Linked DNA regions of Homo sapiens: region 2 is linked to region 1. Evidence: fine-mapped expression QTL. A gene starts in region 1. The other region holds a variant in brackets. All regions are shown on one strand. Distances are from middle to middle. Region 1 holds the start of AGO1 (argonaute RISC component 1). Region 2 overlaps CLSPN (claspin).

Region 1 (12,763 bases):
TTCTCCTGCCTCAGCTTCCCGAGTAGCTGGGACTACAGGCGCCTGCCACCATGCCCAGCTAATTTTTTGTATTTTTAGTAGAGACTGGGTTTTACCGTGTTAGCCAGGATGGTCTTGATCTCCAGACTTCGTGATCCGCCCACCTCGGCCTCCCAAAGTGCTGGGATTACAGGTGTGAGCCACTGTGCCCGGCTGGAAATCCTTCTTATGGATGAACAAAGAAAGTGATTTCTTGAGGTGAAATTGACTCTGGTGAAAGTGCTGTGAACATTGTTGAAATGTCAACAATATATTTAGAATATTGCATAAACCTAGTTGATATGGCAGTGACAGTGTTTGAGAGGATTGACTCCAATTTTGAGGGAAGTTCTACTGTGGGTAAAATGCTATCAAACAGTATTGCATGCTATAGAGAATTTTGTTTTTTAAGAGACAGGCTTTGGCTGTGTCCCCCAGGCTGGAATGCAGTGGTGCAGTCATGGTTCACTGCAGCTTCGACCACCTGGGCTGGGCTTAAGTGATCCTCCTGCCTCAGCCTCCTGAGTAGTTGGGACTGCAGGCATGCTCCTCCACACCTGGCTAATTTTTCTATTTTTTGTAGAGAGGGGATCTTACTCTATTGCCTGTGCTCATCCAGGGCAGCCTGTCCAAAGCTGCTAGGCTTTCCTGTTCTGCCAGGCCAAGTTTAGGGTTTTGGGGCCTTCGTGTGTGCTAGAGAAGATGCAGGAAAATAGGCTTGATCTGGGTCAGTTCGGTTTCAGGCTGGGTGAAACTGAACCGTGAATCTGCATAGAGTGTCAGAACCAGGGACAGCTCCTCCTGTCACCTTTGCTGCCTTTCCCCTGGCTTGGGCTAGGGAGCGAATGGGCAGATTTCGTGATGGTATACTTCTCTAGCTTCTTTTCTCAGTGCTTCTTCCTTCCATTTTTATGCAAGAATATTACTACTGATAGTTCCTGGTGTAATGTGCTATTTCTCACTTCATACTTTCTGTTAATGCTGCTTAGTACACCTTTCTCCCATCTTTCCTTTGCCTGGCTAATTCCTGCTCATCCTCACAGGCCTGTTTAAGTAGATATCTCTTCTATGTAACCTACCCTGATTATCCCAGACTAGATTAGACATACCTCCTCTTAGTTCCCATGTCGCCCATGTGCCTCTGTCATTACACTTAAAGTTTCATTGAAATTATCATCTATACTGTCCAGTACAGTGGCCACTAACCACATGTATTAAGCATTTGAAATGTGGCTAGTCTGAATTGAGATGTGTTATGTGTAAAATACACACTGAATTTCAGACTTACATAAAAATATAAAATATTAGTAATTTTTTTTTTTGAGAAGGAGTCTTGCTTTGTCACCCAGGCTGGAGTTCAGTGGCATGATCTCGGCTCACTGCAACCTCTGCCCCCTGAGTTCAAGTGATTCTTCTGCCTCAGCCTCCCCAGTAGCTGAGTAGCAGGCGAGCGCCACCACGCCCAGCTAATTTTTGTATTTTTAGTAGAGATGGGGTCTCACCATATTGGCCAGGCTGGTCCTGAACTCCTGACCTCATGATCTGCCCACCTCGCCTTCCCAAAGTGCTGGGATTACAGGGGTGAGCCACTGCACCCGGCCCAATATTAGTAATTTTTATATTGCTATGTTGATTTGGGGGGTTAAATATATTACTAAAATTAATTTCACCTGTTTCCTTTTTATTTTTATTTATTTATTTATTTATTTTTTGAGATGGAGTCTTGCTCTGTCACCCAGGCTGGAGTGCAGTGGTGCAGTCTCGGCTTATTGCAATCTCTGCCTCCCGGATTCACGCCATTCTCCTGCCTCAGCCTCCCGAGCAGCTGGGACTTTAGGCACCCACCACCATGCCTGGCTAATTTTTTTTGTATTTTTAGTAGAGATGGGGTTTCAACTTGTTAGCCAGGACAGTCTCAATCTCCTGATCTCATGATCCTCCCGGCTCGGCCTCCCACAGTGCTGGGATTACAGGTGTGAGCCACCACGCCCGGCTCCTTTTTAATTTTTATAACATAGCTAAAAGAAATTCTAAAATTACATATTTAGCTCATATGATACTCCTGTTGGACAGCACTGATATATGTATTTGTTTCTTCTTAGCGGTATGGACTGGCTCAATTACATCCTTGTATCTTTGAATTTCTGGGGCACACTACATGGGGATGGGTAGGGATACCTGATGCTCATCCTCAGAACTTGGAGGCTGGAGTAGCAAATGTCCAATAGACATTATTACATTATTTTCCGTCCAGGAACTCGGCCTCTTTCTCTTCTTAACTCAGGTTATTTTGTATGTCTTCTTATTGGTTCTTATAGATTTTCTCATACAAATCACATACATCTCATGAAGTTTATTTCCAAGAATTTTGAATTGGATATTTTATCATAATTAGTTATTACTGGTACCAGCAGTGAATGCTACAGATTTTTGGTTATTTTTTTGAATCCTTTTACTTATTTAATCTGTTAATTATACTACATTGATTTCTTTTTTTCCTCAGTTGTTTTTTTTTTTAACATTAAAAGAGGAAAATGTAGATTGGGATGCAAACTTTTCTCAGGCCATTCTTATTATATTGGCTCCAGGAAATTCTTTGTATAGAGAAGATATCTAAGTAGAAGACTCTGGCCCACACAGCAGAGGCCCTTAGGTGTGAGTTAGCTATGGACTGAGATGCAAGGATGAAATGGAAACAGAAGGAGCCAATAGGTTTGGTGGAACATATATCAGGGATTACTGAAAGAAGTTTATCAGCATAAAAAAGTAAAATGCAGGGGCTGAGCACGGTGGCTTATGCCTGTAATCCCAGCACTTTGGGAGGCCGAGGCGGGTGGATCACCTGAGGTCAGAAGTTTGGACCAGCCTGACCAACATGGAGAAACCCTGTCTATATTAAAAATACAAAATTAGCCAGGTGTGGTGGTGCATGCCTGCAATCCCAGCTACTTGGGAGGCTGAGGCAGGAGAATCGCTTGAACCCGGGAGGTGGAAGTTACTGTGAGCCAAGATCGTGCCATTGCACTCCAGCCTGGGCAACCAGAGCAAAACTCCATCTCAAAAAAAAATAAAAAAAAGTAAAATGCAGCTGGGCGCAGTGGCTCACTCCTGTAATCCCAGCATTTTGGGAGGCCGAGGTGGGCGGATCACCTGAGGTCAGGAGTTTGAGACCAGCCTGGCCAACATGGCGCAAAAATTAGCTGGGTGTGGTGGCATGTGCCTGTCACCCCAGCTACTCGGGAGGCAGAGGCACGAGAATTGCTTGAAGTTGGGAGGCAGAGGCTGCAGTGACCCAAGATTGTGCCCCTGCACTCCAGCCTGGGCGACAGAGTGAGGTTCTGTCTCAAAAAAAAAAAAAAAAAAAAAAAAAAAAGCAAAATGCTATCTGGATTTCCATTTTACTCTGCCACTTTGCCTAGCTGAGAGTGAAGTCCCTGATTATAGGTGCACTGTACAGAAGGACTTTGAGAGGCTGGGGCCAGGCTTGACTTCACTAGCTGCTTTGGAGATGGGTCAGAATAGTGACTACTGCCTTTGCACAAAGTTAAGTATGAGGTTGAGTATTTAGAACAGGGGAGTCAGACTCTTCTTATGGAATGCTGAGGTTCCAGCTCAGTTACATCAGGGCAGAGGTCTTTCTGAGACCTTTGAGAGTTTTTTGAGAGTTTTTCTGAGTGCTTTTTGATGCCATCTTGTTGATTCAGGTAAACCCAAATTTACTGATCATTCTAGGCACAGCTTGTGCCAAGCACTAAAGGAGGACAGCAGTGTATCTGATATTGTCCCTGTTTTTAAGGAACTTAGATGGTAGTGTGGAGCCAGGTGTGGTAGCTCACCTTTGCCCTGGTGTAACTGAGCTGGGACCTTTGCCCTAGTGTAACTGAGCTGGGACCTCAGCATTCCATAAGAAGAGTCTTTGGGAGGCTGAGGCAGGGGGATTGCTTGAGCTCAGGAGTTCAAGACCAGCCTGGGCAATATAGCGAGACCCTCATCTCTACAATAAGTAAGTAAATAAATAAATAAAAAGTCAGGCATGGTGGCATGCACCTGTAGTCTCAGCAACTCGGGAGACTGAGGTGGGAGAATTACTTGCGCCTGAGAGGTGGAGACTGCAGAGTCCAGATTGTGCAGCTGCACTACAGCCTGGGTAACAGAGTAAGACCCTGTCTCAAAAAAAGAATATAGTGTGAGAGGCAAGTAATGATTATGATAGCAGCTGATATTTTGCTTGCATTCTTTTTAGGCACTGTTCTAAAGTGTTTTTGTTTCGTTTTGTTTTTTGTTTTTTGAGATGGAGTCTTGCTTTGTCACCCAGGCTGGAGTGCAGTGGCATGATCTCAGCTCACTGCAACCTCTGCCTCCCAGGTTCAAGCGATTCTTGTGCCTCAGCCTCCCGAGGAGCTGGGACTACAGGCGTGTGCCATTATGCTCAGCTAATTTTTGTATTTTTAGTGTAGATGGGGTTTCACCATGTTGGCCAGGCTGGTCTCGAACTCCTGACCTCAGGTGATCTGCCTGCCTTGGTCTCCCAAAGTGCTGAGATTACAGGCGTGAACCACTGTGCCCGGCCACTGAAGTGTTTTTATGTATTAACTCATTTAATCTTCACAACAACCGAATGAGGTAGGTACTATTACCACTGCCATTTTACAGAGGAGGAAATTGAGACACGGAGAAGTTAAATAATGTGCCTACTATTACATGTCTAGTAAATGCAGGGCCAATATTGAAACCGAGACAGTCTGGCTCCAGAGTCTTTGTTCTTCACCTCTACTTCGTATGTAAAGCAGTAATTCTCATAGTCCCCAGATCGGCAGCATCATCAGCCTTATCTGGAAACTTGTTAGAAATGCACATTTTTGGGTCCCACCCAACACCTACTGAATCGAAAACTCTAGAGGCAGGGCTTACCAATCCAAGTTTTGTTTTTTGGTTTTTGTTTTTTTTTGAGACGGAGTTTCACTCTTGTTGCCCAGGCTGAAGTACAATGGCGTGATCTCAGCTCACTGCAACCTCCCCCTCCCCGGTTCAAGCTATTCTCCTGCCTTAGCCTCCTGAGTAGCTGGGATTACAGGTGTCTGCCACAACACCTGGCTAATTTTTTGTATTTTTAGTAGAGACGAGACTTCACTATGTTGGCTAGGCTGGTCTTGAACTCCTGACCTCAGGTGATCCACCCGCCTTGGCCTCCCAAAGTGCTGGGATTACAGGCGTGAGCCACTGCGCCCAGCCACCAATCCAAGTTTTAACAAGCTTTCCAGGTGATTCTGATGGTTGCTGTTTGAGAACCTCTAGAAGCAAGGCATGGTATAAGTGTCAGAAATTAATCTCCTCATGAGTAAGGACCGGTTATGGTCCATCCCTTAAGTTCCCAGCCTCTGCATGGCATCTAGTGTAAAGCAGGCATCAAAAATTTGTGAGTTTATGGGAAAGTGATGTTTGAGCTGGGTCTCTTACCCCGCCTATCACTGCACCAGACCGAATAGGAGGGAGAATGGGAGTTCCCAGAAACTTTGAGACTAGCAAGGAAGTGGTTGTGATACGTCTAGCAAGATATGATAAGGGTCTGCACCAGCATAAGAAACCATCAGAATGGCAGTGAATCATGTGAGAGCAGTTCAGAAGGTAAACATGTCAAGACGTGGTGAACAGCTGAATAGATGGAAAGAACAAGGGATAGAGGAACTGTCATTTCTGACATGAAGGTGCTGTTCGCTGAGATAGGAAGCACAGGGCAAGTATGTTTGTGAGTGAAAGATAAAGTGTTTGGTTTGGACTTCTTAAATTTGAAGTGCTGGTAGGATATCCAGGTGGAGCTGTCCAGCAAACACTTGGAAATGTGAGTATGAGACATGGTTGGAAACAGAGATTTGGAAGGATAGTTGGGCCGTAAGAGTGGATGAGACCTTTAAGGGGAGAGTGGAATGAGAAGAGAGCTGGGTTTGGAACCACAGTGAACAGTTAATGAGGCAAAAGCAAAAGGGGCCCTTTAGAAAGACTGAAAAGGACTTAGGCAATAGGAGACTGCAGAAGATGCCGCAGCCAAGTAGAAGGCTCAGAAGGGAAGTAGAGGCACAGTGACAGATGCTGCAGAGAAATAATTGAAAAGTATCCTTTGGATGTCAACCCCAAAAGTCATTTAAGTGACGTGATGAGGGCAGAAGCTGATTGACAGTTCAGGCATGAACTGTAGATGAGAAAGTGGAGGCAGGTGCTTCCCAGGTCCGGCGGATAGAGCTCTGTAGCTGCACTTAAGTTCAAACTGTGACATCTTCCAGGGTAGGCCGCGTCTCTACTTATCTGTGGTCTCAGCGTCCAGCACATGGCGTGGAAGAGGGGGTGGCGTCAGTGAGTTCAGTGACTAGGGACGGAGAAAGACTTCGTGGAGGCAGTCGCTTTGCAGCCAAGGCTTGAAGGATGAGGGTGATTGGGAGGAGAGGTGGGAGGCAGGGCCCCTGGGCGCTGGAGTGCCAGGGGGTCTGGGAATGAAGTGGGGTTCCCATAATGTGTGCGCGCAGCTCGGTGCGACAGGCGGGGGCTGTGTGTAGGTTTGGAGGGACCTATTTGGGGAAAAGACACAGGGCTGAAGGCTGCTGTGGCGGGATGTCCCTTCGCCCTGCCCCACTTATACCACTGCGCGGTTCCAAGGCACCTCTACTGGCGCCCTCCCGCCGGGCTGCATGGCGACGGGTGACCGCCAGGGGCCGCTGCCTTGGGTCCCCGGTGCCCCCGCCCCTCTCCATTGGCCTTTGTTGCCGTCGGAGCGCCCCGCTTGACTCGTTCCGGTCCGCCCCCTGGGCCCGGCGGTCGCGCCTGCGCACTGGCAGCTGGCCGGGCGCTCGCAGTGGGAGCTGCTGCAGGCTCCGCGGCGGCGGCAACGGAGGCTGCGGGGGCGGCGGCGCGAGCGGCCGGGCTTGGTAGGGGAGCCGAGCCCGGCCCGGGATCCCGAGCAGCGAGAGTGTGGGGTACCTAGGCCCCTCACGCTGGACTTCACAGTCTCCGGGCCGCCTGACCTCCGCACGGGTATATGGGATGGAAGCGGGACCCTCGGGAGCAGGTAAGGGTCCCCAGGAGGGGGAACGGTGCATGCTCCAAGGACTGGGGGATCCCGCATGAAAAGCGTGGTTTCCAAGTGATGGAAGCGCTCCTGAGTGAGGAGAAGGGCTCTCCCACGATGGGGGCCCAGTTTGAAGGAGGCTGTGTGCAGTTCCGGGGGAGAACCATGTGAAGAGAGCCCTGAGATGGGGGCTGTTTGTCCAAGGAGGCTGTATACAGTCCTGCGGGTTGGAAGTAATCTGGGAGAAGGGCCTGCACGCACGGAAGGACTCCCAGACATCCGTGGAGGCCTACGGAGAGGCCCGGCAGGTGGCAGGGGACGGGCTCCAGGTGTCCAGGAGAGGAGGGGGCGACACAGATGGGCCTGGAGCTACCGCATGCCGGGGGCGGGGGCTCCGCTGGGCTGGAATAGGCTAATGTCTCTTGGGAGAAGGCGCCAGAGCTGGACTGTGAGCTCCGCCCCACTGGGCCTGACGCGAGGGCGAGGGTCAGGGGGCGGTGGGTGGGGACCCAGTCCCGGGATTACCCCCCGTGGGTCTGGGGAGTCGGAGCGGAGGCTCCAGAGCATGCGCGGAGGTGGCAGCTGGAAGGGGCTGCCCGACGTGGTGGGGGCGTGGCTGTCCGAATACCCCCACCTCTCCACACCCCCCCGCCCCGCCCCGTTTGGCTTGGAAAAAGGAGCGCGCTGATGGGGTGCATTCTCTCTTAGGTTATGCTGGCAGTGTGCAAATGGTTATGGTCCCCTCCCCCATTTTAGGGGCTCTTACACTTGGCCCTCAGTCACAGTTTGCTAAGAATGGGTTGAGGGAAGCTGCCAAAGTGCATTTTTCTGCCACAGGAAAGACTGGGACCGAAGCGATGGGTTCTGGGGGTGGGTCCTCCTGAAGATAGGCCTTAGGAAAGGTATTGGTTACGGAGGAATCAAGGACAGGGCAGGGGCTACCTGGAAGGAGTTGTCTGCTTGGTTTGCAAGTTTCTGCTCCAATACTGAGTAGTGATGGGGGCTTTTAATCCAAAGATTTTCCATTGAATTGTCTGTTAAGGTTACACTCTACATTTATAACATTTATTCTAATATTTCTTAATATTTTCATGGCTCCTATCTTCCACTGGATATCTTTCCGTTTTCCTCTCCCCACTCCCCAGAAACTGTCAGGGCTGTCTTTAGAGCCAAGATCTAAACCCTACAAACACGTTGGAGGATGGGGGAGTTTATAGCCTTCATCCTGGTGAGGCCTAGGTGATAGCCTTAACTTCTTATTTGCAGGCAATGAGGAGGAAAAGACATAGGAACAGAGGATAAACTGAGGCAGGATTGCCTCAAGAAAACTGGAGTCCTTAGGATGGGCTGTGGGGTGGTGATACCTCTTGTGTCTTAAGTGTCTTACCCTGTGATGGGACGAGGAGCCTGGACCTGGGAATCCTTCAGGTCATCTCTCACCACTTCCTTACATTTGGTCTGGGGATGGGAATCAAATTTCCATTTAGGCCATGAACTTCATTACTTTCCTAGTGGAATTATTTTGTTTTTTTTGTAGCAGACCTAACTCCCTCCCACCCTCCCAAGGAAATAGCTCCTACGACCTCACTCAAGTTATCCATTTAGTGATCTCTAAGTACTTAGTGACTGTTTTCCCTCTTAACAACCAGCCTTGTATAGACTGTGTAGTCGTAAGGATAAGCACAGGGAGCAACTGACTTGAGTACTTCCTCTCTGTCAGGACCCTCTCTCCATCCCAGGAACTTCTGTTTTTCAAGGCTGGGGACTATTTCCAACAACCCATGAACTAGAGTAGTGGGGTAGGTCATTGAGGTCCACATGGATTGCTGGTTGCTGGTACCCATTCTAGACTAATGATTTTTATCCTGATGAATTCCTAATAGGCTCTGGAGTGATGAAAAATTGACTTTTTAAAAATTTGTTACAAAAAATAAGCTTATAGGAAAGGAGCTAGAACCTGCTGTTTGGAGTCAGCCAAAGCCTTGGGAAAAGCCGAATAGGACAGGCTTTGCCTCAGTAAAGGGTATAATTGAGATTCAGTCTGGAAGCTGCAAATTGAGGGACCCCATAACTGCCTCCTTCCTAGGCCCGGACTGTTCTCTTATAAGAAGTTAGAGTGGTGTCCCAAGGTGGCCTGAGGACATAATACACAAAACTAAAGCGTTGTGTAAAAAACAACAACAAAAAACCCCCCAAAAACTAAAGCATTGTTGCTAGCCTCACTGGGCTTATGCCCAGGTCTGCCTTCTGTGCTCAGGTGTGTTCCAAGCACATACAGTGGACTGGGTGCTCCCTGAGGGTAGAAGCAGTGTCTGGTTTATTTGTAGAACTAGCAAGTGCCTAGTGTATAGGCCCTGGCACAGAATACATGTTTATTAATTAAATCAAATCACATTCAAGTGTGAACATAAATGGTTAAGCACGTATGTGGATATTTAATAAAGTGTATACTCACATGGAACAGATCCTTTTTGGAGAGATTGGCTTGTTAGTCTTTGCTTGCCCACCAGCTAACCTAACCTAACCTAACCTTGAATTTGTGTCTTTTGAATAGGCAGTCTGGCTCCTTGGGAGGTGTGTGGGCCTCAGAACTGCAAGAAAGGAATCCTGAGCCAGGGTTTTCAGCTCTGTTACTTTTCCTTCTCTGGGCTCCTTGGGGATGGGGGAGGGGGAGTGTCCTTTTCAGGGCCCCTCCCTCCTTGCTTTTGTCTGAAGAGAAGGGTCCCGCCCCTTTCCCCCTAGGCCCAAGCTTTGTCCTCTGTGCTGGGGCCCTCATCTGCATCACAAAGTGGCCGTCTGTCCCTGTCTGGGTCTGTAGGGAAGTGTCTCCCTTTCTCAGACTAAAAGCTGGGGTAAGGGGGGCGGGGAGGAGACAGTGCTGTTGTTAGGCTTTCAGGGGGATGTAATGGGAGAGAGGTTCCTGCTTCCTGCTGTCTTTCCTAGTTTGGAGATGAAGTGGGGGTGTGGGCTCCCCTGTTTTCCCAAAGCCTCTTTGGAGAGGAAGGTGCTCTAAGGCTATGTGTGGTATGTAGTCGGGTTTCTGGGGAAGAGAAGGCTTTGAGGCTAGAGTGTCTGTCCCATCCCCCATCATTTCTAACTAGCCCCCCAGCTCTAGGAGTTATCTTTCTCCGAAGGCCCCAAATGATTATTCAGTCTGGGAGGGGAAGAAGGTGAATGAAATATAAGAACTTGGGGAGGGAAAGGATGTCTCTTACTGGCTACACCCACAAACGTGCATATTTGTCTTGTGTAGTGTTTATAATTGTTTCTGGGCAATTGCAGGTGTTCGTGTGTCTGTGTGCTGTGTGTGCTTGTGTGTTTTTGTGGTGTGTCTATGGATATGTTTGTTCATTCATTTCATATCAGTATGTTGAATACTTCCTGTGTGTGTGTCAGACACTGGAAATTAAACAGTGACCAAGGCAGATATAGTCCCTGCCTTTGAAGAACTCAGTCTAGGGCAGTGAAGGATATGTGTGTAAGTGTAAATTGCCAAGGTCTAAGTGTGTGTTTGGATGTGTGTGATGGGGATGTGTGTCTGTCTGTCCGTGAGCTTGTGTGCAATTTCTGTCCAGCACTTTCTGAGGTAGGCAGCCAGGTGCTAGTAGATAGGTTTTCCCTTCCCCATGTAGCTGAGTTCTGAAGACCTTTTCCATCCAGGCTGGGCCTTCATTTCCCTGTCTGCAGAGTGGGACTGGGCTTGGACAGGTGGTTAGAGGGAAACAGAGCAGCTTAGCTCTGGGAAGCTGCCCCTCCCATGAATGGTTCTGACCTCTTCCTGACCCCCAGCTGAGGGTATGCCCCATCCCCCCAGCTTGTCTGACTGTGAAAGCAGAAGTCTGATAATGGGAGGTTCTGGGCTGGTTTATCCCTCTCTTCTCCCACCTGGGCTAGTTCTCTACTGCCAAGAACAATAGCAGCATATTATTCCCTTTTTTTCTCTCTTCCCCCCAAGCTAGAAAATAAGACTGGAGACAGCAGCCAGACTGGCAAAAGAGGGTAAAGTAGCTGGATCTGGCCTTACCCTATCCCTTTCCCAAGGGCCTCCTCTGTCTTGAAATTGATCTCTTCTGCTGCTGTCTGGACCTTCTGTGTGGAAGGATCTGTGGGGCATGGAGAGAATCTTGTGTTCTTCCCAGAGCCAGTGTCTCTTCTCCAGCATTCTAATTGCCACCTCTTCTTCCCAAACCCGTTAGTTCTTTCTTTATTCAAGCTTTTTTTTTTATCATTGTCTCCCCAGTTGCTGCTTTGTTTCTTCCTGCCTGAGCTTCCAACCCTAACCTCTTTTGCCCCACCCCTTGACTCCAGCCTTCTCTTTCTCCTGGCCTTTTTCTTTTGTGACCTCCAGCTCTGTCCTCTTCTCCAACCCCCTTTCTCTTTTCCTTAGTCTCCAAACTCTGTCCTTTGAGCCTTTTCTCCTTTTCCCTGTCTCCAACTCTCGCCATTCAGTTGCCTTAATTCTGCCTCAAACACTGACCCTGCCCTCTCCAGCCTGGCCTTGTCTGGATCTTATTCCTGCCCACCTATAAAGGAACATCAAGGTTATGCCATTTTGTATTCAGCATGGTGGCGAATGGAGTGAGCATCTGGCTGGCAGAGAATAGAAATTCTTGGTCTGCTAGATACCTGGTGGAGGCAAGTGTCTTACTCTACTAGAAGAAAGAAAGGGTTTTGTTACTAGGAGCCAGATTTAGTCTCTCTGCTTAACATGCAATAGGAACTTATTATATATTAACTTAATGAATTAAAAATAGACAATAAGGATAATTTTCCTAACTGGAGAGAGATTAAAAAAGAAAAAAGAGAAAAAACACAGATGAGCTTGAGATGTCCCCTGGAAGCCCTTGGCTGGGTTGGGTAGCAGGAAAGAGGCATTCTCTATACTCTCGTGTTCCTGTTCTGGGAGGCCTTGTTCCTCCTCTGATAAGAGTAGTTAGGAGATTGCCAGACTTTACCCTCACCAGCCTCTTTGTCTTGTAGCTGCGGGCGCTTACCTGCCCCCCCTGCAGCAGGTGTTCCAGGCACCTCGCCGGCCTGGCATTGGCACTGTGGGGAAACCAATCAAGCTCCTGGCCAATTACTTTGAGGTGGACATCCCTAAGATCGACGTGTACCACTACGAGGTGGACATCAAGCCGGATAAGTGTCCCCGTAGAGTCAACCGGTAAGTGATGCACACCTAAGCCACCAAATCTGAAAGACACCAACCTTGAAAGAGGGGCCAGAAAGGTAAAAGAAAAACCAGTAGAGGGTAGTATCACCAAATCTAAGGAAGTTTTTGAACGGGAGATGCCACGTCGGGTAAATGCTGAAAAATAGTCCAATTGGACTTCGCTATTGGAAGATTATTAGTGGCTTTTGCCAGAGCAATTTCAGCAGAAAGTAGTTGAGCTAGTTAATCTAACTACATTGAGTTAAGAAATAAGTACAGTACCTACTACATTTCAATATTAGTTGAATGAATAAAGAGTTTTAAAGAATGAGATATGGGTATGTTTACAGATTAAGGAGAAGGAGCTAGTAAAGAGGGAGAGGTTAAAGGTATGGGACAGAGGGGAGAAATGAATGGGATGTCCTTGATGAGGCAGAAGGACAGAGGGGAGAAATGAATGGGATGTCCTTGATGAGGCAGAAGGACAGAGGGGAGAAATGAATGGGATGTCCTTGATGAGGCAGAAGGACGTTGTA
Region 2 (12,763 bases), 150 kb before region 1:
CCACCTGGTGAATGTTTGTATTTTTAGTAGAGGCAGGATTTCACCATGTTGACCAGGCTGGTCTCAAACTCCTGACATCAGGTGATCTGCCTGCCTTGGCCTCCCAAAGTGCTAGGATTTCAGGCGTGAGCCACCACACCTGGCCTAAAGCTAGTTATTCCTAAATAATACAATACCTGCTAAGTCAAGTGAATTCATTTAAAGGAAATCAGATTGTAGTCTCTCTCTTTCTTTTTTTTTTCCCTGAGACGGAGTCTTACTCTGTTGCCCAGGCTGGAGTACAGTGGTGCAATCTCCATTCATTGCAACGTCCGCCTCCCAGGATCAAGCGATTCTCATGCCTCAGCCTCCTGAGTAGCTGAGACTACAGGCGTGTGCCACTGCACCGGCTAATTTTTGTATTTCTAATAGAGACAGGGTTTCACTATGTTGCCCAGGCTGGTCTCAAATTCCTGGCCTCAAGTGATCTGCCCACCTCGGCCTCCCAAAGTGTTGGGATTACAGGCGTGAACCACCACACCCAGCCTGTAGCCAGTTTTGTTAATCAAGGGCAGTGTTGTATGGAATATTCTAGCACTGTATAATTAATACAGTCAGTGCTCACACAGCAGTCCTGGTCACTCCATAATTTTCAGAGCTCAAAACCTGAAGAAAAAAAAGCTCCAAATGCAGGGATGTCCATGTCCACAGGAAGACAAAAAAGCAGCTATAGAGATGCCTGTTATTCATTTGCCAGAGGCTTTTCCAGTGAGGACACCAGAGAATAATTCACCCCCAAGTGAAAGGGTATCTGTGGCTGGGTTCACCTACCCACATATATGCCAGGAACTTAAGTGGCAAGGACACAGAAACCTCCAGAGATGGCCAGTATCAGCCTGAACAGGGCTTTGCAAAAGGCCATGCCATCAAGACCCAATGATGGACAGCGGGTAAGCCTCTTGGCAAACAGATGTCAGAGCCAAGAGAGGCTAGCAGTGAGTAGCCAGATCCAGGTCCCAGGGCCTGGGGTGTCAGGCAAGGAGACCAGAGAAGATGAGAGGAATTTCTCATCCAGGAAATAGGACAGGCCTAAGGGTTATTCATAGGTGGATAATTTCTCAATATCAGTATTCTCAGGAAGAAAGGGGTGGGTAAGATCAAGGTGTTTCAGCTTCAAAGACCTTGTCCCTTCCCACCCATTCATTTACATGTATCATACAGTTACAGAGTGCTTACTTTGTGCCAGGTACTGTGTTGGGAATTCAGAGCAGAATCAGAACTGGTCGTGGTCTTGGGGAGCTCCTTGTTTAGAAAGGGAAACAGAAGTCATGGTGTGTTGGCTCATGCCTGTAATTCCAGCACTTTGGGAGGCCGAAGCGGACAGATCACTGGAGGCTAGGAGTTTGAGACCAGCCTGATCAACATGGTGAAACCCCGTCTCTACTAAAAATACAAAAATTAGCCGGGCATGGTGGCACACGCCTGTAATCCCAGCTACTTGGGAGGCTGAGGCACGAGAACTGCTTGAACTTGGGAGGCAGAGGTTGCAGTGAGCCAAGATCACACCACGGCACTCTAGCCTGGGTGACAGAGCCAGACCCTGTCTCAAAGAAAAGGAATAGACAGAAGAGTGGGCTATAACAATGTAATGGGCCCTGCAACAGAGCCAGGAGGCAAAAGTAGTAAGCCCAGAAAAGGGTAAGGAAAGGCTTCACAGAGGTGATTTTTTTTATTTTAAGAGATGGGAGTCTTGCTATGTTACCCAGGCTGGTCTCGAACTCCCAACCTTAAGTGATCCTCCCACCTTGGCCTCCCAACATTCTGGGATTACAGGCATGAGCCACTAAACCCAGCTAGCACAGAGGTGATATTTGAGCCAGGCCTTGAGGGATGAATAAGAGCTCACCAAGAGAAAGCAAGAGAAGGCATAGGAGACTGCATTTTCAGAGTGAGTTCAGGAAACACCCCGTAGGCCAGTGTGGCTGGAGCTCGGTGGGAAATGGAGGTAAGGTGAGGCTAGAAGATAAAGTTGGCCCAGTTGTGAAAGTTCTTGACACCATCCCAAGGAGCTTGGGCTCCATCCTGGGGACAGCAGGGAAGTAACTGAGGAAGCCCTCAGAGTTTCCATATCAGAACAAAGCACGATCCTGGATTACAAACTACGTTGCTAACCTGCTTTCTTCTCTCTTCCTGAGGTCACATCATCTGTCAACTTCCCCACATGGCTTTGGGAACTTAGGCAAATCAAATCATTTTAACCTTTTTGGGCTAAATAAAATAATATGCCTTAAAAATTGTTCAATAACATAGTGGTGAACATTGTCACTTGGGCTCCCAAGACCAGGCACAACCCCAGAGGACCTTTGACATGCCAAAGAGCCATTAAGGCAGATTGGAACGAACATTATTCCCCAGAATTGGTTCATCTTGGGAAAGGAAGGCCTAGGAAGCTGATGACCTACTTGTTTTGTTCATCCATTTCTCTACTGCTTCTTAAAGGTAAAGTGCCTCTTTAGTCTATCAAGAAATTACTATGTGTTTACCTTAGGTAAAATATGCCCATTCCCCTATCTTCCATTTTGGCTGTTTTCCCAGCTGTAAAATGACAAGGCGGTACATTCAATTAGAAGTTTTAAAGCATTTTTAGAGCCTTGAAGTAATTTCTTTTTCCTCAACAAAATCTTTCCAATATATCCAGTTTGAGATCTGTCTTCCCCTAAACCCTCCACCTAAGGGCTCCGAGGGAACTTCAGAGAAGCTTTTAAAAGTTCGGCAGGGCACAGCTGCAAATCCACTGCACCAGATGAACCTAGGAAATGAATCCTCCCCCTGTCCCCAACACTGTTCCCCTTCTCACCCACCCCTTCCAAGGGAAAAGGGAGAAACAGGTCTTTTCGGAGCTGCTGGAAGAATGAAAGGTAATATAAATTCTTTCTCTCCAGTGCACTCAAGCGGTCACCAGGACATCAGAAAAGCCAAATCCAAGGTCCCAAGGCTCTTGATCATCCAGTGCCCACAACAGAGGGAGTAAGCTAGACGGAGAAGCTGAAGTGAAGGAGGAAAGAGAGAAGGGGGTGCCTGTTCCACCCCCTTCCTAGCAGCTGCCTCTGTGGGCTCCATAATCCCCATGCCCTCTCCCCCACCCCACCCTCCGGCCGCCCACCTCTCCTCCACCCACCCCATTCATCAGTAGGAGGGCACTGTATCAGCACAGCCTTTCAAGGCCTGACAGTTCCTTTCTGGGTGCCCCCCACATGTAACCACTTAACCCCCAGCACAAAGGGCCAGCCTGAATGGGCTTGGAGCCGGTGGCTCGTGCGGAGGGGGAGGCCTCAATAGGATTTGGGGAGCTGGGTGTATAAACCGCTCTGCTCCAGCAGCCCTCAATGGAGGAGCTGGAGTTGGGGCATGTGCCGAGGGGAGGAGCTCGGCAGCTGCATCCCGCCCCTGAACAATGATTTATTCATTCTCCTGGCACGCACAGAGAAGACAGGCTGGGGAAACATGGCCCCACAAATCGCCCTCAGCCTCAGCTGATTCCCACGGCAATCATTGCAGTTCAGAGTGCCCCCTCCCACTTGTAATGTTTTGCCTCAAGCTTGCCCTTCCTCTTCCTCGTAAGGAAGTAGACTACATTACGGGAGGCCTTAAGTAGCCTTAAATTCAGGCAAGCATCGTTCTTTGAGTTGGTTGCACCCAAACTCAATCTCACTCTCTCAAAGCTTTCTGGCCAGGTTTTCCTCACACACCCATAGAAACAGATGCAGACAAAAAAAAAAAAAAAAAAAAAAAGCGCATAGCAAAACCTGTCTCCAGGATGGCCCCCAGCAGGGAGTTGGGGAGCTTAGCCTAGAAGTAACTGACAGGTGATGGGAATGTAGTAAATGTTTGCTGGATGAGTTAATGGCTGCTAACAAAAGGTAGTATGCTTGCTGCTGTCACTCCTCTTCCCAGACCCTTTCCTCCTTCTTGTAGTCACATCCATCTGGCTCCAATTCCCAGAAGAATCTCTTAGAAATCTTTGGGGATGAGGGGACAGAATGAAGACAGGTAAGCAAAGATGCTAAAACCTGTAAATAAACAATGCTGGGTGGTGGTGGTGGGGGTGCGGTTTCAAGAAGTCAAATTGTGACAAAAGGAAATTTGCTCTCGCCCTCTTGCCTCCATATGTCATGTCACCAGGGCCAGATCACACACACACATCATCATAATAAATAAAACTGAAAATCAATACCGTTAGCAGAACAGGGAGAGCCAGAATGAAGTGACCATCCTCAGACTGGCCCCTGGGCCTACTGGCCCCAAGCTTGTAATTACCTTGTCACACAGAAAACAAATCTATTGTGGGTGGTAAGTGTGAGAGGTGGGGGATCCCAGGCACGGAGCTTGCCGGACGAGGAGCAGGGGAAGGGGCACAGTAGGAAGACTGATTGGCCTTCAGTGATGGTGGTACAGGAGCTTGAGACTAACAAAACTAAGGCCTGGACAGTTTAAGAAAGTTTTGTTGTTTTAGTCAGGAGGGTGAACACCCTAAGGGAGGTGATCCTGCCCAATACTGGTGTGGGGCGTGAAGTTGCCGGGGAAAAGGCTTCAAGCCCACTCCTGGAGCCTCAGAAGGGCAGGTGGCTAGGATGCTGCTGCCCTCTGGTGGGCATAAAGAGACAGTATCCACACCTCCAACGCTGGAAATCCATTGCAAAGGAGTCTCCGTTCTTTGTTGTTCTAAAGGCTTGGCCACCAGGACTAGTGCATTCATAGCTTGGATTTCCCAGGAAGCCAACTCTGAGACTGTTTAATGTGCTGGATGTTTATTAAGAACCTCCTTTGGGATCAACAGCTGTGGAAGAATGAGAATGAGCAGGAGTGGCCAGAGGAAGAGGCTGATCTACAAGACAAGCCAGTGACAGCCTCAGCCAACCCCACAGGGAGCTCTGAAGCTAGAATGGCCCTTCAGAGTTGACCCAAAATAAGCTAAGAAGGCCAGGCCGTTACACACCTGTTGCCATTGAATGTGGGCTATCCTTGACCTTGGGCAAGGTGCTCTCTGAGGCAATTCCCACCCTGGAAGACTGTCTGCATAGTGCTTCCAACAGCTAGGCCAACAAGGCCTTCATGGAAGGGTCCACCCTCCACACCATAACTCATCAAATATTTGTCAAAGGAACAGCAGGTTTAGATCATGCCTCAGGCTGCAGGCTCAGTTGGGACAGTCTACAAGTCTCAGTTACCGGGGCTGTTATGCACTGATCCTTGGAAACGGTGAGGGGGGCCTTAATGCTCAGATTCATGGATTCATTCATTCAACGAGCATTTGTTGAGATTTACTCTGTGCCAGGCCTTGAGGCAGACACTTTACAATTTTTTTTTATTTAATCCTCACAACTGTGAAGCTAGTATTAACTCAGATTATTCAGATGAGATCAAGTTATTAAGTAGCTTTCACAGTCCAATGACACTTTGAAAAAAATGCCACTCACAATGGGACAAGTGCTATTGCTGCCGCCAAAGATTTCTCAGGCCAGAAAGGGTCTTGGCTGTCTTCTGTGTGTGTGCATATGTGTATGAACTGGATGGCTTGCTTTCTGCTTTCAGCCAGAACATTTCCTCTATGGCAGCCAAGAGCTATGCCTCAATAGCCTCCTGCTTTAATTCCTTCCTAAAAATGTTGCTGCTCAAGGTAACAAAACCACAAGCTTTTTTTTTTTTTTTTTTTTTCTTTTGAGGCAGTCTCACTCTGTCACCCAGACTGGAATGCAATGCTGCAGTTTTGGCTCATTGCAGCCACAACCTCCAGGCTCAAGTGATTTCCTACCTCAGCCTCCCAAGTAGTTGGAACCACAGGTGCATGCCACCATGCACAGCTAATTTTTGTATTTTTTGTAGAGATGGGGTTTCGCCATTTTGCCCAGGCTGGTCTCAAACCCCTGAGTTCAAGCAAACCCCCCACCTCAACCTCCCAAAGTGCTGGGATTACAGGCATGTGCCACCATGCCTGGCCCAAAACCACAAGTTTTACAAATTCCTGGTTGTAGCTACAGAGCAAGCCACCATTGCCCAAAAGAAAACTGGGCTAGCTCCTTCCCTGGATAGTCAATGGAGAGACAGCCCTGGATCCTCAGTGTTCTTTTAGCCATTTGATCATCAGAAAGTTGATGATAAGTTCTTCCCTAATGTCTAACCTCCATATTTGCTGCAACTCTTTGGAACAATAACATTGAAGGGACAAGAAGCACAGGTTTCTGTTTCAGAAAACTCTCAGTACCCTGCACCTCTCACTAACCTGCCCACTCTGTGTAAGGGACTGAGGGCTGGAAAGATAGAGAAAACTGTCAGCTGCTGTTCTTCTATAGCCCTGATGGGTTCTAATCCTTGGTCAATTAAGACATCCAGCAACCAACATGAAGATTTTAATTTTCTCATTTAGATTCTAATCATAAAGAACTTGAAGGAAAATGAAGGAGGGAGTATGCTTGGAAGTCATGGAACAATTTCTGGGTCTAACTACAGAGACATTCACTCAACCTCACCCTCCCCTCAAACACACACACACACACACACACACACACACACACACACACACACACACACACACACACACGCCTTTCCTGCTGGGCCCCCAGAACCTAATTTTTCACGTTTGGAAAACCCAGATGATTTTTGCCTAGGTCCATCTGGTTTTCCAAATAACCTGTCTTTTTGATAAATAACGTAAGTTAAATTAGACAAGACAAACAAACAGAAGGGTGGGCAGTCAGCCTTTTTCCTTCCTTCAGCCTCTGAGAAAAAGAGATGAGGGCCAAAAAACCCAAACCACGGCTCACTCCCAACCCTGCCTCAGCACTTTCTACCCCTTGGACTAGGCAATAATTCTCCAGCCTGGAGCTGGGAGCTGCCTCTTCAACCCTACATCTAGCCCACCAGCCATCAAGAATTCCGCGGACTACGGTTCTCTCTAAAATGAAGGGAAGGAACTCAGGTGTCCACCCCAACTCCTTCCAATCACCCTTAGGCTGTAGCTACTTCAAACTCCCTTTTCCCATTATGAATCCCACCACAGGGTAGAACTAAATCAATAAACTGAAAATGAAAAACCTTTAAGGTGAGAGGAGAGAGGACAAAAAGAGGGGATGGGAAGGACGTGGATGGTACAGACCAAGACAATAAAACTACTGGGGACAGAAACCAGGCACCTTGGTCTCAAAAGGTAAAATCTGAGGTGACACCAGCCATACACAAGCCACGTCTATCTCCCCAGTTCACTGGAGTCCAGGCATACACACAGGCCTCCATTTCTACTGCTATAACAAGTCTCAGCACATAGCTAGCCACCAATGGTGGACTATGGAGCTTTGTTGGGGCTTGGCTTCTCCTTCCCACTCAGCTCTACCCATTCCTCAGCAGTGAGTTAGCCTGCATTAGTGCAGCCTCTTAAATATGTACATTCACTTCACATTAATTTGTACCTTTGATCCTAACCATACCCTGTGAGCTAAACCAAGTCATTTCACATGAGCCCCATTTTCCAGTTGAGGAAAAAAGAGACTGACTTACCCAAAGTCATGATGCTTACAAGCTGCAGAAAGAGCAAGGACTAAAGCTCTACACCTCTATTCTGTCCTGCACTAGAAAGCTCCTCTGTATATAATTCAGCTCTATGCTTTTCACCATTAGCTCTTCCAGGCCTCCCATCACTCATTGCTCAAAAAATTCATTGAATTATTTTATGTGCCAGGCATGGTGCTACCCAAAGCATACATTTTTCAACAAAACGGATATGCTCTGTTTTCACAGCACTTACAGTCTAGTAGGGAAAGCAAGCCTCAACGAACATTAAAGTAACACATCATGATGACAGACCCAAAAGAATGGGAAACCTAAGGCTGGGTGTGGTGGCTCATGCCTATAATCCCAGCACTTTGGGAGCCTGAGGTAGCTGGATCACTTGAGGTCAGGAGTTCGAGATCAGCCTGGCCAACATGGTGAAACCCCGTCTCTACTAAAAATACAAAAATTAGCTGGGCACTAAAAACACAAAAATTAGCCAGATGTGGTGGTGCACACCTGTAACCCCAGCTACTTGGGAGGCTGAGGCAGGAGAATTGATTGCCCGGGAGGCCGAGGTTGCAGTGAGCCAAGATCACGTCACTGCACTCCAGCCTGGGTGACAGAGTAAGAATCCATATTAAAAAAAAAAAAAAAAAAAAAAAAGAACAAGAAACTCAAACAGAGGTAACCTAATTAAGAAAGGAGTGGTAATGGTCAGAGAAGGCTTCTCTGAAGAAGTTAGGCTTAAGCTAACACCTTCCCCGTCTCTATCAAAAATACAAAAATTAGCCGGGTGTGGTGGTGCGTGCCTGTAACCCCAGCCCCTTGGGAGGCTGAGGCAGAATTGCTTGAACGGGGGAGACAAAGGTTGCAGTGAGCTGAGATCGTGCTACTGCACTCACTCCAGCCGGGGCGACAGAGCGAGAATCCATCTCAAAAAAAAAGAATAGGAAACTTATACAAAGGTAACCTAATTAAGAAAGGGGTGTTAGGCTGGACTTGGTGGCTCATGCCTGTAATCCCAGCACTGTGGGAGGCCAAGGCGGGCGGATCACGAGGTCAAGAGTTCGAGACCAGCCTGACCAACATAGTGAAACCCCGTCTCTACTGAAAATACAAAAATTAGCTGGGTGTAGTGGCGCATGCCTGTAATCCCAGCTACTTGGGAGGCTGGGGCAGGAGAATCGCCTGAACCCGGGAGGCAGAGGTTGCAGTGAGCCGAGATCGTACCACTGCATTCCAGCCTGGGCGACAGGGCGAGACTCTGTCTCAAAAAAAAAAAAAAGAAAGAAAGAAAAAAGAAAGGGGTGTTAATGGTCAGAGAAGGCTTCTCTGAGGAAATTAGGCTTAAGCTAACACCTTGAGAATTATGCATTAGTCAGACAAAGAAGGAGGATGGATGTAGGGGAGGGCATTCCAGGGAAAGAGGACACTTTAGATGCTCCTGAGGCTGCATGTCATGAGAAAGAAGAGTAGACAGCAGGTTGGGAGGCAGAGCTATGTCATGCATCGGCCATGAGAAGTTTGAACTTTGAGTGCAGCGGAAGACATTAAAAGATTTTAAGTAGTGAAGTGTCATCCTCCAAATTATATTTACATAAAGGTCGCCTCTGGCTGCTGTGCAGATTGGATGAAAAGGAAGCAAAAACAGAAGTGGGGGGGTCAGGAGGCTACGGTAGGACCCTAGAAAGAAA[T/C]TGTGGAATCTTGGACCAGGGGGCTGGCCATAGAGCTGGAAGAAATGAGCTGATTCCAGATGCAATTTGGAAGTAGAAATAACAGAACTTGGAAATTGTCTGATTACAGGATTAAAGAACAGGTCAAGAATGCTCTCCAGATTTCCAGTCTGAGTGACTGGATATATGGAGGTACCTTTTACTGAAATGGCAAATACAGGAGGAAGAGCAGGTTTTTAGAGAAGATCACATTTTCATTTTAAGTTTGAGATATTTGAGAAACAATGGGCCTTTCAGAAGTGGCCTACAATATATGATATAATTGTGATACTGGTAATTTCTTTCATTCTCAAAGGAGGTGAATTTCTTTTTTCTGGGAGCTACTGGCAATTTCTTATGCTTACAGAGTGGCACTTGACATAATGCACTGACATACATTTTCCAACTGAAGCCCCCCAGCAACTCTGAGACAGCCATGACTTAGTATCCTCATTTTATAAACAGAGGCTCTGAAAGGTGTAGTGTTATTTATTCAAACTGTGGTAGGCACCACTACATTCCAAGCTGTGTGCCAGGCGATGAGTAGGATATAAGGGTAGAAGATACAATACCATCTCAAGGATGACATAATCAAATAGTATCATGGGAACACTCCTCCCAGAAATACTCTCCTCTATCCTTAGGAGCACAAATCCCAGGACAGGATGCCACAAGAGTGATTAGACATAACCCTAGGAGATAAAAACCAAAAACACCCCCTAAAAAGTCTCCCAGCCTGAGCATTAGAAACTCTCAAAGTGAGGAGAAGTTTGTAGAGAAGCAGTTGAGAAAATGAGGGATGCCACAGAGATCTGAGTACCTTGTCTCTAGAGCTTTGGTGAATAAAATCTTATGGTTTATGGAAGAGACCCTAGTATGGCTGTGCAACTGTGAATTAATGAGATGAAATTAGAGACCTGTTTAAAGAGGTTAATACCATGTATCCCTACTCAAGTGTATGGAACAAGGAAGAAACAAAAACACTGACACTGAGCCTACCCTATCTCCCACACTCATGGGCTCTCATCCCTCCAAATATGTAATTTCCAAGCTAGTGAAGCTGAGTCCTCCTCAGAGCCATAGTGGCAGGTCCTGGGGCTTCAATTTCATTAAAACATAACTGATGCTGCTGGCTCAGTGCTTTGGGCAAAGGGCATATGGGTCAGATTGAAACTGTCCATGTCAATCCTGTTACCAAGATCAAGGCTTAGCTTACTTTATAGCAGCCATCCTGGCATAAGGAAAAGTAACCCAGAGTTTGACTCAAGTTTTCTTTCTCCAAAGAGTGCTTTCTCCCAGGAGCCTCAATCAGAAACCATTTTCTTTCTTTCTTTTTTTTTTTGAGAGGGAGTCTCACTCTGTCGCCCATGCTGGAGAGCAGTGGCGTGATCTCGGCTCACTGCAACCTCTGCCTCCCAGGTTCAAGCAATTCTCTTGTCTCAGCCTCCCAAGTAGCTGGGACTACAGGCACCTGCCACCACCAAGCCTGGCTGATTTTTGTATTTTTAGTAGAGACGGGGTTTCACCTTGTTGGTCAGTCTGGTCTCCAACTCCTGACCTTAGGTGATCCAGCTGCCTCAGCCTCCCAAAGTGCTGAGATTACAGGCATAAGCCACCACGCCCAGCCCAGAAACCATTTTCTCCCTGGATTTCTCAGGCACTAATTTTCTTTTTTTTTTCTTTTTTTTTTTTTTTTTAGAGTTGGGATTTCACCATGTTTCCCAGGCTGGTCTCGAACTCCTGAGTTCAAGCAATGCACCCACCTCAGTCTCCTAAAGTGCTGGCGTGAGCCACCGGACCTGGCTGAATTTTCTTATCCTCAGTTGTCAATTCCAATTGTCTTTTCTATCTCTCCTCAAAAGACATGTAGGGAAACAAGAGGGAAGAAATATCTAGCCTTCCTGCTCAGTTCTCTTTTGCCCAGCAAGGGCTACTTTGCCTTGGGAACTGTTTAGAGAGTTCAAAGAAAGAGGCAAAAACATGTATCTTGAACCCATGGATAAAATGAAGTACATACAAACTTAGCTAAAGAGAAAGGCCAATCAAAGCTGTAACAGGCTGGGCATGGTGGCTGAGCCTGTGACCCCAGCATTTTGGGAGGCCAAGGTGGGAGGATTACTTGAGGCCAGGAGTTCAAGATCAGCTGGGGCAACACAGCAAGACCCTGTCTCTACTAAAATAAAATAATTAGCTGGGCATGGTGGCATATGCCTGTAATGTGGCCCAGCTATTCCAAAGGTTGAGGAAGGAGGATGCTGAAGCCCAGGAGTTCAAGGGTACAGTGAGCTATGATTGTGCCACTGCACTCTAACCTGGGCAACAGAATGAGACTGTCTCTAAAAAATAAGTTTTTTAAACAAAGAGCTATAATAGAAGGTACCATTTATGTAAACTCAATTATCCTCTTCACCTGAGCTGAACCCAAACCACTTGGTAAGTTAACTTGATCAATTCACTAGGACTGAGAAGCCAGTGAGGGGACAATTGCAGCAGCTTCTCAGTTTAGACCCAGAGGGTTTCCCTGGGATGGAGATAACCTGAAAATGAAATGCTCCTCAAGGTTAGACAGGCACTGACCCAAGAATGAGCATTCAAGCTGGACAGCAAATCTTCCCTTCAAGGCATTAAGATTTATTGAAAAACTACATACATATTAAAACATCTTTATACACATTTTCCCCATTATAAGATTACAAGTATACAAACATAAGTATTGTCAAAGTCAACATCTTGAGTATTAGAAAACTGTAGAAAACCGGCCGGGTGCGGTGGCTCATGCCTATAATCCCAGCACTTTGGGAGGCCGAGACGGGTGGATCACCTCAGGTCAGGAGTTCAAGACCAGCCTGGCCAACATGGCGAAACCTCATCTCTAATAAAAATACAAAAAATTAGCTGGGAGTGGTGGCAGGTGCCTGTAATCCCTGCTATTTGGGAGGCCGAGGCAGAATTGCTTGAACCTAGGAGGCGGAGGTTGCAGTAAGCCGAGATCATGCCATTGTATTCCAGCCTAGGTGACAGAGCCAGCCTATGTCTCAAAAAAAAAAAAAGAAAAGAAAAGAAAAGAAAAAGAAAAAGAAAAGAAAAGAAAAACTGTAAAAAACCTACAACCTAATTGCATCAATTAAATTGGTGTTCCCATCTCCCAGTAAAAAACTGGCACACTCTCTTCCAACTGCCCAAGTACAGGTCCTGACACTGAAACCACAGTATTCACATGGAATGTTTTTCCAAAGCAGCACTGATGCTCAGTTCTGAGGGGAAAAACATTTGTCTAAAATTCTGAGAAGCTTGTGGTAGTTCAGGGAAAATGGAGAATGATGGCAATTCTCTTCAATAATATTTTTATTAAATTCCATGGTGGCCTTCTCTCAAAATTAGTAATGAAATGCTGAAATGTCCATTGATTAGTGAGGGCAATGTATGTAAGCCAGAAGAATGCAATAAATAAGGGTTATGTTTCTTCTTGTCAGACCCAGAAGGGAGATCTTTGAACAACAGTGCTTCAAATTGAGAATTCAGTCCCA

What was found. PIP is the estimated chance that this variant, and not a neighbour inherited with it, causes the effect.
Region 2: its variant is fine-mapped to the expression of AGO1 in whole blood (TOPMed, PIP above 0.99).

Annotation. Positions count from the first base shown.
Region 1 is chr1:35,876,372-35,889,134 of GRCh38, forward strand. It overlaps AGO1 (argonaute RISC component 1), which reads left to right and starts at 6,838. Exons shown (of 19, transcript NM_012199.5): 1 at 6,838-7,075; 2 at 12,056-12,239. The coding sequence starts at 7,051. RefSeq lists a silencer at 6,601-7,060 and enhancers at 9,411-10,050, 10,688-10,747.
Region 2 is chr1:35,722,405-35,735,167 of GRCh38, forward strand. CLSPN (claspin) reads right to left here. Exons shown (of 25, transcript NM_022111.4): 25 at 9,708-12,763. Among named protein-coding and RNA genes, the nearest start is that of C1orf216, 9.9 kb to the left of the region's middle. RefSeq lists a silencer at 3,354-3,537. The variant T/C (reference allele first, on the strand shown) is at 9,219.